2 separate regions of the Homo sapiens genome follow, and region 1 is linked to region 2. The links come from fine-mapping of genetic effects on gene expression. A gene starts in region 2. The other region holds a variant in brackets. All regions are shown on one strand. Distances are from middle to middle. Region 1 overlaps NACC1 (nucleus accumbens associated 1). Region 2 holds the start of STX10 (syntaxin 10).

The links.
Region 1: its variant is fine-mapped to the expression of STX10 in whole blood (INTERVAL, PIP above 0.99). The same link has a PIP of 0.9 or more in blood mononuclear cells.

Annotation. Positions count from the first base shown.
Region 1 is chr19:13,121,401-13,124,296 of GRCh38, reverse strand. The region is part of intron 1 of NACC1 (nucleus accumbens associated 1); the gene reads right to left. Among named protein-coding and RNA genes, the nearest start is that of NACC1, 4.6 kb to the right of the region's middle. RefSeq lists enhancers at 310-969, 1,533-1,582 and a silencer at 1,953-2,022. The variant T/C (reference allele first, on the strand shown) is at 1,298.
Region 2 is chr19:13,148,866-13,151,761 of GRCh38, reverse strand. It overlaps STX10 (syntaxin 10), which reads left to right and starts at 1,387. Exons shown (of 8, transcript NM_003765.3): 1 at 1,387-1,623; 2 at 1,865-2,034; 3 at 2,169-2,263; 4 at 2,671-2,733. The coding sequence starts at 1,589. IER2 (immediate early response 2) reads right to left here and starts at 1,351. Exons shown (of 2, transcript NM_004907.3): 1 at 1,210-1,351. RefSeq lists silencers at 1-76, 1,627-1,786, 1,827-1,876 and enhancers at 1,217-1,286, 1,307-1,506.

The DNA of each region.
Region 1 (2,896 bases), 27 kb after region 2:
TCCTGAGTAGCTAGGATTACAGGCACACACCACCATGCCTGGCTAATTTTTGTATTTTTAGTAGAGACTGGGTTTCTCCATGTTGGCCAGGCTGGTCTCAAAACTCCTGGCCTCAAGTGATCCGCCCACCTCAGCCTCCCAAAGAGCTGGGATTACAGGCGTGAGCCACTGCACCTGGCCTGTATTTTTTTTCTTATACACCCACAGATTTAATTCGTTATCTCTTTCCCTGAATGACTATTGTTAAATCCATGGTGGAATAGGATTAGTAACAGTGTCCCCTACTCAAGCCTCACTGACTGGGCCCATACCTGGCCAGGGCTCAGACAGGCTCATTTAACTTACTCTTCTTTACAGTTTCTGAGGAAGAAATGAGCCTGCCTGCCATTTCATGGATGGGAATGAGGCCCAGAGAGGTGAAGCCAGAGGTGGGGAACATGTAGCTGGTGAATGGCAGGCACAGGTTTATACCCAGGCCGTCTGGCTCCCGAATCAGGCAAAAATGTGAGGCAGCTGTGACTAGACCCATTTCACAGGTGGGAAAACTGGTGTTCAGAGAAGCAAGGCAGAGACCAGACGGGAACCCCGGACCGGCCGAGCCCAGAGCTGGGGCTCTTTACCTGAGCTACTGGATGTGTCCTCTCCAGAAACAGGGTCTTCTGCCTGTCTGAGGACCTCCACCTCAGGGTCTGGGGTGCCCTCTCTCTAATCCCCAAGGAAGGCCTTCTTCATTCTTTTCATTCTTCCTTTCCCAATCCTCCCAACTGCAGCTATTCTCTAGCCCCTTCTCCCTGCAACCACCATCTCCGGGAATGAGCAGTCTCCGCGTGCTGCCTCTCCCTCCTCCCACTCGCTCCTCCTCGCAGCCCTCGGCAATCTGGCCTCCCTTTGCAGGCAGCAGCTCCAGCTCCTTGGAGAGCCTGGCAGAAGCTCTGCCTCCGTCCTCATGGAGCTCGCAGCCTGCCCGCTCCCTCCCCACCAACTCCAACCATAAGCCCACCCTTCGGAGTTACATCCCACTCCCTGCGTGTAATCAGATCATACCCAAAAGACAGGGCAGCAGTGGCGGCAACCAAGGGTGGAGGGAACAACAGTAAGTGCAAAGGCCCTGAGGTGACCCTGGTGCCGCTAACACAAAGGAGGGTGGAGGGATGGGGATCATCCTGGGAGAGGGGCCTGCTGGGCTGTGCTAGGGAACCACGCAGGACCTAAGATTTTGAATCCTACTATTGTACTAGGCTCAAATCCCTTATAGAGCTTGTCACTCAGAATTACCCTCAATACTGCTCACCCCCCA[T/C]ATCAGTCTCCCATCTAGAAAATGGGCTGACAGCAGCAGCCACCTCACAAGGCTATTTCAAGGATTAAACAACCAAAGAACACAGGCCGATCGGCGCTCGCCCCGTAGTCGGTGCTCATGAATGCCAGCTGCTGTTAGTCGTATCCCCTGGCCCCGTGCTGGGCCGCAAACTCCCTGGGAGTAGAAGACATCTTATGCCTCTCACCATCTCCCAGACCTCGCACATTTCATGGGATTAACAGGCAGTGATCGCTGGGGTTTTCCCCAGAGCCTTCACAGCACTGTCCACTCACACCCCAGACGCCAACCTCTCCCGCAAACCTCATGATAACCAGACAGTGGAGATTCCCCACCCAGCCACTGCATTTGCGTCAATCATTCTTTGTGGTGGGGGCTGCCCTACACACTGTCTGATGTTGAACCGCATCCCTGGCCTATAAACCCACTAGATGCCAGCAGCACACCCCCCCCCCCCCGGCAGGGGCAACCAAAAATGTCCCCAGACATTCCCCAAGTGTCCCCGGAGGTAGGACTGTACCCAGTTGCGAATCACAGCAGTATAGTTGTGCCCACTTGTCACTCCTTATCAGAGGAGGACACTGAGGCTCAGAGGTAAAGACCTTTGCCCAGAGTCTCATGGCTGAGACAGGGGTGGTGCTAAGTGTGAAATTTCACTCTCTACTAGACCGTGTCTGCTCACCCTTACCTACCCTCTCCCTTTGCTCGATTTAGAAACCACGAACTGGACACAGTCAAAGCCCTCAGAGAAGACGCACAGGTCTCTAAGAACTGAGACCTTCGCCAAGGAGGCAGCACATGAGAAGGCTGGAGGGACATGACCACAACCACACACAGATCACAACCTAAGACACGTCACCTCTGCCGGCTCGGCTGGTCCTCACCCCACCTAATGTGCAAGCAGGCCCAGTCCCACCTCCCGGCCCCACCTCATGCGGCCCAGAGGGTTCTCTAGGGGAAGGCAGTAGCGGCTGAGAGGACTGAGGAGCAAATGCAGACACGAGGAACATGAAAGTGGCTGGAAGGCGGCACAGGGGTGGTAGCCAGACCACTTTGCAGCTTGTGTGAAGGAAGGACTAGGGTGCCTCAGTTGCCTTGTGTGTCAAATGATGATAACAGGCAGGACCTGCTAGCCACGGGCTTAAATGAGTTCGAGTGTGTACAAGTGCTGAGAGCAACCTAGGAGGAGAAACGAGGGGCACGGAGGATCTGAGGACGCAGAGTGGCATGAACACTGACTCATGTTTTCCAGCCCCGGTGGCTCACCACCATCCCAAAAGCAATATGCCCCACCAAGCCTGATGGGATCCCTCTCTCCACACAGGCTCTGGCAATGACACTGATGAAATCTAGGGTCAGACAATGTTGGGCCAACCCCAAACTCTCTCCAAACCCCCGGGCCTCCAGGCAGACTCCTTCAATAGACCCTGTAAGGCTGACCAAAACTCACATCTCCTCAAAGCCCAGCTCAAGAACCTGCTGGGGCTCCCTGCTGCCCGGCCAGGAGGCCAGATTTTTTAAATACCCTAGATGCAGGCCAAGGGGTTCTGAACTTCCATCTGGGGGTGATGGGCAGATCCA
Region 2 (2,896 bases):
CCATCCCCGACCCGGGCAGCCGGAGCAGGCTGGAGCCCCAGGCTTCCTGACTCGCATTCCAGCCGGGTGGGGGAAGAGGAGAGTTTCACTTCCTTCCCTCCAGGGGCCAGGAAGGCGTGACGCCAGGAAAGCACCCCGCAGCGGGTAGGGGCGACCTGAGGGCTCCCAGGGACGCCATCTCCCAGAGACGCTGCAGAACGACCCTGCATACACAGGAGACGACCCGCTGAGGCCCCCTTCATCCCATCTCTCCTCTTCCCAATTATTTCCCCCATACAAGGCCCCCTCCCAGGTTATTCCTGACCCCTGCCCCACACTGATCTTCTCAGGCCTTGGGACACCCTCCCGTCCCGCCCTTCCCCCGCACGCTGGGAACTCAAAAGTTATTCCCCCCTAAAATACCCTTCCCAAACTCGTCCCCATTCAACGATGGTGCCAGACTGCGACGACCTGCCGAAGACGCAGGCCGTCCCCACCCCGCTAACCTTACCACGGAGACCCCACAATGATTTCCCCAGCCCAGGCGCTATCTCTGAGACCCCACGCAGCAACTCTGACGCGCAAGGGGGCGACCCTCCGAGGACTCCCTCAGATAACCCGCCCACCCTCCAGGGGAGACCAGGCCCCCTATCACTCAAAAAAAGTGCTTTCCCGAAGCTCCCCAACACACAGCGCCACTGTCACACATAGGGACGACCCTGAGTCCCTCCGCTGATATTCCTGGCCCCTACCCAGACGGAGACCCCACACACAGAGGGCCCCCCTGGAGACCATCCTCAAAGCCACCACCCGCTACCCCCAGGCTCGCACCCAGAAAGACTCCGCGCTTCTGAAGAAACCCACCTCCACGCACTTTCTCAAAGGTGACCTCCCCCCGCTGCTGGCATATCTGGGACCCCCTCACGACCACCTCGCCCCAAGGCGACCTCGAAGTGCCCCCAACTCCGCCACTTCTCAGGAAAGAGATTGGGAGAATGCGGCAGAACTCCCCGGAGGAGCAGGCCCGCTCCTCACCGCGCCCCCGCAGGGAGAAGGGAGGACCACCTCTCCCCCAGACCCTAGCCAAACCTGACACTCGGGACCCTGGGATGGGACGATCTCCCAGGTGCCAGCTCAGGGAGTCCATGAAAAGCTTCAACGAATCGAATGAGCCCCTTCCCCAGCCATAATACCCAGCCGCCAGAGATGAGGGAGGCTATCATTATTTACATTGCCCGTGCCTGGAAGGGAAACTGAAGTTGCGCAGGAACAATCCGAGGAACTGGGCCTTGAACCGAAATTCCGAACTCGGACCCGAATAGGCCCAGACAGAACTCCGACACCGCCCCCTACGGTGCGGCACGAGAGGGCTAAGGGGCGGGGGCATGTGCACCGGAAGCTGCCTCTGCCCACAACCAAGATGGCTGAGGAGAGGGCGGAAGTGTCCGCACGTCGGGCCTCCGAGGCTTCTCTTTCTCCCCTGGCGGTCCGGCTCTCGATGGTGGCGTGACGGGGGCGGGGGTGGCGGCGCGTTCTCCTCGGTTGGGAGGGAACCAGCCCGCGAACCCAGGCCGGGAGGGGGGTTCGGCCTGGGGGGGAAGGGACTGACATGTCTCTCGAAGACCCCTTTTTTGTAGTCCGAGGGTGAGTGACAACGACGGGGGAGGGCGGAGGGTGCTCTGTACCCAAGCCAGCCAGTGCCCGGGTGCCGGCCCCAGCGTGCCCGGCGGGCTGGGCAAGGCCGTCGGGGTGCAGAGTGGGAGGCGCACGCAGGGGTATATAGGGGTCTCCGGAGTCCCCCATGCGTTTGGGTTTGCAGTCGGGGGCAGAGGCAGGCGGGAGGACCGCCTGCCCCCAGCCGCGCCCGCCGTGCCCCTGCCCGCAGCGAGGTGCAGAAGGCGGTGAACACGGCCCGCGGGCTGTACCAGCGCTGGTGCGAGCTCCTGCAGGAAAGCGCGGCGGTCGGACGCGAGGAGCTGGACTGGACGACCAATGAGCTGCGGAATGGCCTGCGCAGCATCGAGTGGGACCTCGAGGACCTGGAAGAGACCATCGATATCCTGGGGCTTTGTGGCAGAGGGTGGCATGGGAGAGCCCATTGCGGTGGCAGCCCACCTTCGGGTAGGGCTGGACCCCTAGGGACGGGGATGATATCTGGCTCCGGCCTTGACCCTTGACTCTCAGCCCACGTATAGTGGAAGCCAACCCAGGCAAGTTCAAGCTCCCAGCCGGGGACCTGCAGGAGAGAAAGGTGTTCGTGGAGCGGATGCGAGAGGCAGTCCAGGTCAGGAAAGGTCCTGCAGGCGGGGAGTGGGGGAAGGTTTGAGTGTGTTTTTTTTTCTTTCTTTCTTTCTTTTTTTTTTTTTTTTTTGAGACAGAGCCTCGCTCTGTCGCCCAGGCTGGAGTACAGTGTTGCAATCTCGGCTCACTGCAACCTCCGCCTCCCAGGCTCAAGCGATTCTTGTGTCTCAGTCTCCTGAGTAGCTGGGACTACAGGTGCCTGCCACGATACCCGGCTAAGTTTTGTGTTTTTAGTAGAGACGGGGTTTCACCATGTTGATCAGGCTGGTCTCGAACTCCTGACCTCAGGTGATCCACCCGGCTTGGTCTCTCAAAGTGCTAGGATTACAGGCGTGAGCCACCGCGCCCAGCCTGAGTGTCTTTCCTCCCTAATGCTGTCCTTACCTCCAGGAAATGAAGGACCATATGGTCAGCCCAACAGCCGTAGCATTTTTGGAGAGGAATAACAGAGAGGTAAGCCTTCCTGACCCACCCTGCCCACCTGAGCCCCTGGGGGTAACCAAGCCAGATCCCTCTGTGCGTGTTCACCTGTCCCTTTTGCGACAGTGCCCGTCCTCTCTGTGGGCAGTTATCTTCTTGCTGTCTACCTGCCTGCACTTTCTCGGTGTGTGCACCT